Linked DNA regions of Homo sapiens. The protein of the gene in region 3 purifies or fractionates together with the protein of the main gene of each other region. This does not show direct contact. Each region holds a gene or a part of one and is shown on either strand. Other genes may lie near its edges. The genes, in order: PYGB, ABCB9 and HSD17B3.

Region 1 (2,866 bases), on a different chromosome or scaffold from region 3:
AGCTTCCCTAAAGGCAGGCACAGCCGACTGATGACAGATCAGAATCACAAACCCCTCTGGCCCAGGCCAAGAATCTACTCAGCTTGGGAAATAAACAATCTGACCCAACACGTCTACATGGACCCACCCAGCTGCTCCCCTAGCCTCTGGACCCAGGAGCCTCACCCGGTACAGCTGGTCCACCTGTGCCTGGCACTGCATGTAGGCTTCATAGTCTGCAAACACCTTGAACCTGGAATGGGAGAAAGGAGGCTGGGCCAGGGCAGCAGGGAGCCCTGCCCACACTGTCCCGAGGGGAGAGTCCCAGGGCAGGAGGCCAGGCACCATCCACCTGGTCCTGTCTGGAGCGAAGGGGCCCACCCACGCAGCTGGTCAGAGCCAGGCTGCACCAGGCCCATTTGGCCACAGGGCTTCTCTGTGAGCAACACTTATGTCCTGGGACAATATTTTAGAAAAACCTTATTTCAACCCAACACTCCTTTAAATAAACTGGCATTTAAAACGTGTCTTCCACACGCAGGGCAGTTAGAGCTGCACATGGGAGAGGCCTCCTGGGCAGACAGTGGAGAGCCCATGGCGCCGCCTCAGGGCAGGGGGCACTTGCTGGGGAACGGCATCTCCATTTGCCGTCTTAAGTCTAACTGGGATTTGCCTACACAGGAAATACTGACTTGCAGTTCCTGATGTGCTGAACAAAAATGCCAGATTTATGAATCTACAAATGCATTTCTGTTCACTATCGAGTCAGAAGCACACTTCACGAAATGCAGAGTTCACAATTTTAAAAGCACTTCCTTTATCACAGACCTCAGCAGGGCCCAGGTTCCAGCCCAGATCCCAGCATGTGGTCAGAGCTGGTGTGACTGAAGCCAACAGGTGACACGGTCATCGAAGAGCAGCAGACAAAACTAAAACTAACCCAAAGGCAGCTGAAAGTGGAGGGCAGGTGAATTCCCAGCCCTCGCCGGATTCAACTTTTGCCAACGGTGAAGAACTGCCCTGAGCTGCAAACCTTACAAAGTCTGTAACTCTAGATAAACCATACCATGTGCTAACTGCACTGAAATAAAACACTAACTACATTATAATGTCACATCGTTGCAAGTGAAATCCATTTTCACCACTGCCTGTCACTGGCACTGACGCCTGCCGCGGTTCCGCAGCCCTTGTGCGCCCCCTACCCCACCCCAGGGAGTTTTGGGCCCATGCTCCCTCTACTGGCCTGCTGGGACACGGCTGCCCCTGGGACCTCCAACCAGCAGAGGACACCCCCTCCTGCTCAGCACATTGGTCCACAAGGCCTGGGGGCTGGACTGTGCTGCTGTGTCTCGCTGCCCAGGGCCCCCTGGCATTGCCAGAGGCCATCGCAAACTCCCAGCTGGGGTCTAAGGCTCTGCCCAGTAAGGTCTCATGGGCACAGTGGAGAAGACGTCCTGAAAGCACGGGTTTTGCTCTCCAAACAAGGTGGAATATCCAACCCACGAAGAGGACCCCTCCCTCCCTCCCTCCCTCCCAGCCACCCAACCAGGGAAGTCGGTCCCACCTGTCATGGTGCATCAGCATGTTCACGATGTCCTTGAAGCAGTCTGGCTCCTTGGGAGAAAAAAAGCCACTGCTGATCTGGTCCACGGCCTGCTTCAGCTCGGGCAGGTGGTCGTAGTACTCCCTGGCATTGTACCTGTGAGGCGATGGGCCAGGAGTCAGCAGCCAGCGCCCCAGGTGGGCCACCTTGGAGAACAAGCCATGTTGGTGCCTGGCACAGCCCCTGCCCCAGGATGGCCCTGGGAGCTCAAGGCCTGCACGGTCCAGGGCAGCAGCCAGTGGCCATGGGTGGTTACGAGGCCCTTGAGCAGGGACCTGCTCGAGCAGAGATGTGAAGTCAGTCTAAAGCCAATCCCACCTGCTCCTTTGACTGTTAAAGAAATGTCATCACTAGCAGATCTGCTAGGACATAGTGGCTGATGCCACATTCCTAGTGGAGAGGGCCACTCAGAACTTGGCTCACTGTGAAATCCTGGGCAGAGCTTTTGAAAAACAGACGGCCGGAGGGGCAGGAAGTGAAATGGAGCACCTTGGCTGGGACCTCGAAGATGGAAAAGGAAAAACGCAAGCAAGACCAGACAGGACAAGGCAGAGCTAAGTGGGAGAGGGACGGACGGGCAGACATGGGCATCCCAGGACGGGGCCCGGGCAGAAGAAGCTGTGTGAGGGCGCAGAAAGGGAGCACAGGCCTCTGTGCTCGGGCCAGCAAGGCACAGCTCTGACTTCAGATGGCATGTGTGGTTTCACCTGACCCTACTTAAGGCCTCACAGGCTCCCCAGTGCTTCAAGGCAATCAGGCAACACTGCCTTTTCTTTGTAATTATCGCTTGGAATCAGGCCCGTGCTGGATTCCTCATGACGTCCAGATCATGAAGAACAAGGAAAAACTGAGAAGCTGTCACAGACCAAATGACACTGGGGAGACCTGACGGCCACACACAGTGGAGTGCCCTGATGGGATCCTGGGATGGGAAAGACAGTAACAGAACCCCGGTGGAGTTGGAATGGAGTGTGGGCTGCAGGAGGGCCAGTGCTCTGAGCTCAGTGCAGCCAACGGAGGGGCGCGGGGATAAGGTGGATGAAGCTCTGGGTGCTGTCTTCAGGATTCCCTCCTCCCCTCTGCCACCCCCCAACCCCCCCATCCCCCCCACTCCCCCACCCCCCCCGACCCTGGCCTACACATTTAAAATGTTTCCAAAATACTATTTTTAAACAATTTTAACAGTTACAACTTAGACCAGGGAACCTCAACAGCAGGCAAGCCCCAAATCAGCAGAGTGCTCCCGGCAGAGCGCCCCTGGCAGTGGGGTCCTGCCCAGCCCCA
Region 2 (3,652 bases), on a different chromosome or scaffold from region 3:
CAGCCTGGCCAACATGGTGCAACCCCATTTCTACTGAAAATACAATTTTGTACTAAATTTTGTACTAAAAGTACAAAAATTAGCTGGGCATGGTGGTGCATGCCTGTAGTCCCAGCTACTGGGGAGGATGAGGCAGGAGAATAGCTTGAACCCGGGAGGCAGGGGTTGCGGTGAGCCAAGATTGCACCACTGTACTCCAGCCTGGGCGACAGAGCAAGACTCCATCTCAAAAAAAAAAAAAAAAAAAACCTAAAAAGAAAAACATTAGCTGGGTGTGGTGGCATGTGACTGTAACCCCAGCTACTCAAGTGGCTAAGGTGGGAAGATCACTTGAGTCCAGGAGGTCAAGGCTGCAGTGAGTCATGAAAGCACCACTGCACCCCAGCCTGGGTGACAATGTGAGACTGTCTCAAATAGTAATGATAATAAATAAACAACACTGCACTGAACATCTCTGGACATACATCTTCGCCCACTGCTGTGAGTACTCTTGAAGCATGGATTCCTAGGGGCAGATTTACTGCTGAGTCAAATAATATGGCAGGTGTGATTCTCCAGCAGATGCAATGGCCTGAGTAGCAGATGCTAGGAACACCCCACCAACATCCTTGAGCCTTTGTCAGCGCAGCACACAAAGGCCCAATCTCTTACTGCCTGCGGGCTGCGGGCTTTTTTGTGGGAGCGAGGCAGACAAGAGAATTAACACCCTCACTCCAGGCTGACCTTGAGCAATGGCTGATGGCAGCTTGGGTGTAAACACCCCAGCTCCCTGGCCCTCAGATGGGATGACTCTGGTGCTGGTGTCCTACCCTGTCCGCTAGAAGGATCCCACCTCAGTTGCCCACACTGGTAACTGGCTCCACAACTCACTCTGCTGACTTCCTTCCTTCCACGTCTCACTTTCCACTCCCACCCCCGTTTCCTGAGATCACCTCCCAAACAAATCCGTTGCACGCCAATTCTGTCTCAGGATCTGCTTGTGCGGAAACCAAAATCAAGACAATCTAAAACACCCTTGCATTTCCGAGGCACTACGCTGGAAGTAGGCTGGGAGGAAGTCAGGCCCGGCTGGCCCTGAGCCCCGTTCCCGAGCAAATGTGATGGACGAGTCACTCCACCGCTCAGGTTCAGTTTTCTTTTCATCACTTCAATTTCTCACAGAGCTGTTAAGACCATTTTCTGAAATCACCTCTGTCCCTAAAGGGTGTTGCTGTCACTTGTTGGTAGTATTATCATTCTTTCTTTCTTTTTTTTTTGAGATGGAGTTTCGCTTTGGTTGCCCAGGCTGGAGTGCAGTGGCGCGATCTTGGCTCACTGTAACCTCTGCCTCCCGGGTTCAAGCGATTCTCCTGCCTCGGCCTCCTGAGGTGTGAGCCACCGCACCTGGCCCTTTCTTTCTTTTTGAGACACGGTCTCTCTCTGTCGTCCAGCCTGGAGTGCAGTGGCGTGATCACGGCTCACTGCGGCCTTGACCTCCCAGGCTCAAGCGATTCTCTAGCCTCAGCCTCCTGAGGACCTGGGATTACAGGCACATGCCACCATACTCGGCTTGCCTATTTATTTATCAAGACGGAGTCTCGCTCTGTCACCCAGGCTGGAGTACAGTGGTGCGATCTCAGCTCACTGCAACCTCTGCCTCCAGGGTTCAAGCAATTCTCCTCTCAAGTAGCTGGGATTACAGGTACCCACCAACACGCTTGGCTAATTTTTGTGTTTTCAGTAGAGATGGGGTTTCACCATGTTGGCCAGGCTGGTCTCGAACTCCTGACCTCAAGTGATCCACCCGCCTCCGCCTCCCAAAGTTCTGGGATTATAGGCGTGAGCCACCACGCCCTGCCTAGTATTATCATTCTTGATATGATCATGCTGTCTCCCCTACTTACCTTAGAGAGAAATACCACATTGTCAGAGTCCCTGGAGCCCCGCCCCCACCCTGTTAAGATCCCTCTTCCCCAAACTCCTCCCTTCTCTCTGGATCCCCGGACACACTGGCCTCTCACCTCCATACAATCTCCCAGGACAAACTCGTAGATGATGAAGGCGATGAGGTTGCCGCTGGTCATCTGGCCTGAGATGACAAGGTGGCCCCCGTAGTAGAGGATGCTGACCTGGACCACCAGCAGTGTGAGCTGGGGCAGAGGGAGAGGGGATGTGGGTCGAGGGGACCTTAGATCCCCCACCATCCCCATTCCCTGACCCATCCCAGGCTGCAGGGGGAGGTGAGGGCAGACCCAGCCACAAACTGAAATGCCGGCCGTTGGCAGGGGTGTCTTCCAAGGCTTGTCACTCATGCCTTCCCCTGCCCCGAGCATTTCCCTACAGAGGCCTCCAGCTGGAGCAGGCTGTGGGCTTGGCCACAGAACAAGGCTTTCTTTGTGAGGTCCTGGCACACACATGCCACCCCCAGGCTCCTCAGCTTGGCCACCTGGGAACTATTCGTCCTCCTCATGGGGAAGAGCATGACTCAGAGAGGGCAAGTGCCCTGGCTAAGGTCACACAGTGAGCTCTCTGTCTCCTCCCCCAGTGGGGTTCCGTGAAGAAGGGGCTGTGATGGGAGCGCCCATGCCTTCCTCCTGTGCCTGGGGGGCATCTGGGAAGGGAGTGGAGTCTGAGTACCCATGGCAGCCCACACCCTAGTCAGGGACTCCATCTGTCCTCCTCATGCCCAGCCAGAACTAGGCTGCTGTCTGGACCACCGTGCCTTGGTGGAAGCTGCAAAGGCACCCCCTGCCAGCAGACGGATTGCTAAGAGGCTCAGCTAGCTGAGCTGGACCTTAGCCCCTCCTCTCCTCCTTGGCTGATACTTTTGGGAGGTGGCAGCACCAGGAAGTCCCAGATATCCTCTTTCCCCTGGCTCCCCTGTAGACCACCAGCTCCCTCCTCCCTCTCACTCCAAACCCTCCTCATTCCTCCGCAGCTATGCCCTGACCTGCCCACCTCCCATGTGTGTCCAGTGTAGCAGTGACATGATCCAAGTGCTCCCCATCCTCCAAGGAGAGGCTGTGACGCACTCCCGGGAGTGTGCCAGACACTGTCGGGAGTGTGTGTGGCTGTGACATGAGACCTGCCCGAAAGTGGCCTAGGGACCTGCTGACTCCCCACCTCAGCAAGGATGTTTCCCCAGCTGGGAAAAGAAAGCTCCCACCCTGCCACCCCACGTCAGGTGACTGGGAGAGGGGCAGCCTTGCTTCTGGGAAAGATTCTCAGCAGGGCGCGGTGGCTCACGCCTGTAATCCCAGCACTTTGGGAGGCTGATGCGGGTGGATCACCTGAGCTCAGGAGTTCGAGACCAGCCTGGCCAAGATAGTGAAACCCCGTCTCTACCAAAAATACAAAAATTAGCCAGGCATGGTGGCGGGCGCCTGTGGTCCCAGCTATGCAGGAGGCTGAGGCAGGAGAATCGCTTGAACCCAGGAGGCGGAGGTTGCAGTGAGCTGAGATGGTGCCACTGCACTCCAGCCTGGGTGACAGAGTGAGGCTCTGTCTCAAAAAAAAAAAAAAAAAAAAAGAAAGACAGACAGATTCTCCACCAGCTTGACACCAACATGCAGGACTGATGTCCTAGATCGAGGGCTTCCCCCATCTTTGCATCCCATCCCTCCACAGCCAGAGCTGCCTGGCCAGGGGCACGTACCCCGCTGCCCCAGACGTA
Region 3 (3,652 bases):
GAGCCACTGCGCCCAGCCCACGAGGAGCTTTTTTAACTGACATGCTTGAGGTTTGTTAACATACGCCAAGTTTCTAGCAAGTGCGTCCCAGATGCCTTGCACTGCTGTTTCACATAAGATGGCTTTGTTATGATGCAAGCCGTCTGGGACAAGAAAAGGCATGGGTACTGTACTGTAGTTGAATGCATTTTTCATATGAACCGAATGTTTTGTGGCCCCCCCAAAATTCATATGCTGAAATCCTAACCCCCAATGAGATGACACTTGGAGGTAAGGCTTTCAGGAGGTAATCAGGTCATGAGAGTGGGGCCTTCACGATGAGATTAATGTCCTTATGGGAAGAAACACCAGGCCAGGCATGGTGGCTCATGTCTGTAATCCCAGTACTTTGGGAGGCCGAGGCAGGCAGATCACTTGAGCCCAGGAGTTCAAGACCAGCCTGGGCAACATGGTGAAACCCTGTCAGTACAAAAAATTTAAAAATTAGCCAGGCGTGATGGCACACGCCCGTAGTCCCTGATACTCAGGAGGCTGAGTGGGAGTATCACTTGAGCCCAGGAGGTTGAGGCTGCAGTGAGCTGTTTGCACCACTGCACTCCAGCCTGAGCAACAGAGCAAGAACCTGTCTCCAAAAAGTAAAAGAAGAAGAAACATCAGAGAGTTTGCTTCCCCTCTCTCTGCTCTCTGCCGTGTGAAGCTACATCAAGAAGACAATTGTCTGCAAACCAAGAAGAGAGCCCTTGCCAGACATCAGATCTGCTGGCACCTCGCTCTTGGACTTCCCAGCCTCCAGAACCCTAAGAAATACATGCTTGCTTAGGCCACTCAGCTTATGGAATTCATTCTGCAGCTGAAGCTGATGAAGACCACATCTGTCTCAGAAATGGGTGTAATTACTATAACATAGTGGAAAGCACTGGAACCTTACATATATTCACAACCTCTAACCCAGCAAGACCACCTCAAGAAAATAGCTCCCAAAATAATTGGATATAAGCAGAAAAGTTTCTGTATTTACTCCCAATTTTATATAAAATGAAGAAAAATTCAGAAAAAAATTAAAATTTTTACCAAGAAAATGGTTAAATTATGGACCATCCATTTGATGGAATATTATGTTGCCATTTAAAAATCAGGGTTTTCGGCAGGCTGCAGTGGTTCATGCCTGTAATCCCAGCACTATGGGAGGCCAAAGCAGGCAGATAACTTGAGCTCAGGAGTTCAAGACCAGCCTGGACAACAGAGGAACAGTGAAACCCTGTCTCTACAAAAAATACATGAGCCTGTAGTTCCAGGAGGACACATTGCTTCGGGAGGCTGAGGTGGGAGGATTGCTTGAGCCCAGGAGGTCAAGGCTGCAGTAAGCAGTGTTTGTACCACTGCATTCCAGCCTGGGCAACAGAGCAAGTGTCTCAAAAAAAAAAAAACCCACAGTTTTGACATAAGAAAATGCTCACAACTAATGTAACATTTAAAAAATAATGGTATGTATAATCTGGGATTTGAGATAAATTTAGGAGAAACTGTTAGGTTTCAAATATCTTTCTCTTCAAGAATGTGGTATTTTTTTCTCTTATTTGGAATATCTCATATTTCTCAATGGAATTTTACAGTTTTCTTGAAAAAGACCTACAAATTTTATGTTAACTGTATTTCTAGGATTACTTATTTTTCTATTGCAAATGGAAAAGCTTTTCATTATATTTTTAAGGTGTTATTGATTTCTTTTTTTTTTTTTTTTTTTTTTGGAGACAAAGTCTTGCTCTATTGCCCAGGCTGGCGTGCAATGGTGCGATCTCAGCTCACTGCAACCTCTGCCTCCCAGGTTCAAGAGATTCTCCTGCCTCAGCCTCCCAAGTAGCTGGGATTACAGGCACCTGCCAACACACCCTGCTAATTTTTGTATTTTAAGTAGAGATGAGGTTTCACCATGTTGGCCAGGCTGGTCTCGAACTCCTGACCTCAGGTGATCCACCTGCCTCGGCCTCCCAAAGTGCTGGGATTACAGGAGTGAGCCACCGTGCCCAGCTGGTGTTATTGATTTTTAAACAGCTTTCCTCTTACAGTTTCTAGAATTCTTTCTATTCTTCTATTGTATTTGACATGGTTCTAGACATCAGTGTAATAGGCATAAGGAAGAAATAAAATACATAGGAATTCCAGGAAACAATGTTTCATTAATAAAAATGTGAAATTTATAATTATAATAGCATATAAAACCACATATGTTATAAATGCATTTTTTAAAGTATAATTATCAATCTATCTATCTACAGAGAAATAAGCGTGGAAGCAAATACTCAAAAATACTAATTGTATTCTAGTGACTCTCAGTTCTATTAGACCTTCTTTTTATAGAATATGCTATAATGCCATTAATGTCCTTGAAATGAAAGTCACTGATAATATGTTTTGCCTAAGCAAGTGACTTTTAAAAAATCAATATATGCCCTAGCTTAATGTAAATAATAAATAAAAGGAAAGTAGTTTATAATGTTTTGAAAAAATTAAAGTATATAAGCTGATATGGCACAATTACACTAGAAAATACCAATGCCCCACAAATTCCCAAAACAATCCCTAAGGCAAGGTACTGTCACCTTTGAATATCATTGTGTTTAAAAAAAGAGATCCAGGGAGTGAGATTATTATTTTTGTTTGCTTTTCCATAGAGTATATTTTCTCCTTTAAATGAATGCATACTGCTTTTATATTCAAAAATCTAGTGTTGGGGTGGATGTCTCAGGACTGTGATTGTTCAATACAAGGGAGGAGAAAGTCCCCAGGAAGATAGCTTACCTCGAACGAGTACGCTTTCCCAATTCCATCGCCTGCTCCAGTGATCACTGTGAAAAGCAAGAATGCTTTTAAAAGACAGAATTCATCTTTAAACTTCTCTTTCTCACTGGCCACGTTTTCTCACAAGCCTAGTCTCCAGGGCAGTCAGTACTCCAAAGGTTCATCCCTTTGCTCTCCAGCCCACGCCCTTGAAGCCCCTCACTAAACATTCAGGTGAAAGGATTGTTTGGTTGGTGGGTGGGTTGGTTGGTTGGTTGGTTTGTTGGTTGGTTGGTTGGTTGGTTAGTTGGTGTTTTGGAGGGATTGGCGAGACTGTGGAAAACATGTTCCAAAATGAAACAGATCCGCAGCCAGGGAACATTTCCTGCAGGCCCCATGAGGATGCAGATATTGTGAGCCTTCACCCCACAAGGGCAGGCAGTGTTCCCCATTATCTCTCTGCCCAGGCACCCATCTGTCATTGTAAGGACATTTCAAGGTTCCTTCTAAAAGTGGAGCTCTGCCCACTTCTCACCCCCACCCCACAGCAGCAATTAAAGGCCTATGGAAGGTAGGGAATTTAGCAAAGAGGAAAATACCAAAATGCAAAAAGAAAATGCAGTGAAATGAAGAAACCTGAAGAATTTGTACTCAATAGAACTATCTGTTAATATACAACAGTCAAATAGGTCTGCTAGTCCTTTCATATCAACATTACAGACATATTTAATGATTGAGCTCTAGTATACGCTTCATTCGTGAGAACGTCACAATTTCAAAATTCACTACAATTCGGTATATCGTAAAACTTACAATTTACCCTTGCAACAACAATTAAAGGGCATGCTTTCAAAAAGTGTGAACAAAAGGTACA

The links.
Region 1: the proteins of HSD17B3 (region 3) and PYGB purify together in Homo sapiens (affinity purification with mass spectrometry, with the first as the bait; one large-scale study listed by BioGRID). This does not show direct contact.
Region 2: the proteins of HSD17B3 (region 3) and ABCB9 purify together in Homo sapiens (affinity purification with mass spectrometry; one large-scale study listed by BioGRID and IntAct). This does not show direct contact.

Annotation. Positions count from the first base shown.
Region 1 is NC_000020.11:25,292,970-25,295,835, reverse strand, and holds part of PYGB (glycogen phosphorylase, brain form), read right to left. Parts: intron 1,679-2,866; coding exon 1,544-1,678; intron 1,094-1,543; exon of another isoform or gene 864-1,093; coding exon of another isoform or gene 806-863; intron 233-805; coding exon 166-232; intron 1-165. UniProt on the Homo sapiens protein: Glycogen phosphorylase that regulates glycogen mobilization. Phosphorylase is an important allosteric enzyme in carbohydrate metabolism. Enzymes from different sources differ in their regulatory mechanisms and in their natural substrates.
Region 2 is NC_000012.12:122,942,391-122,946,042, forward strand, and holds part of ABCB9 (ABC-type oligopeptide transporter ABCB9), read right to left. Parts: coding exon 3,635-3,652; intron 2,130-3,634; coding exon 2,001-2,129; intron 1-2,000. UniProt on the Homo sapiens protein: ATP-dependent low-affinity peptide transporter which translocates a broad spectrum of peptides from the cytosol to the lysosomal lumen for degradation.
Region 3 is NC_000009.12:96,295,617-96,299,268, forward strand, and holds part of HSD17B3 (17-beta-hydroxysteroid dehydrogenase type 3), read right to left. Parts: intron 2,847-3,652; coding exon 2,800-2,846; intron 1-2,799. UniProt on the Homo sapiens protein: Catalyzes the conversion of 17-oxosteroids to 17beta-hydroxysteroids. Favors the reduction of androstenedione to testosterone. Testosterone is the key androgen driving male development and function. Uses NADPH while the two other EDH17B enzymes use NADH.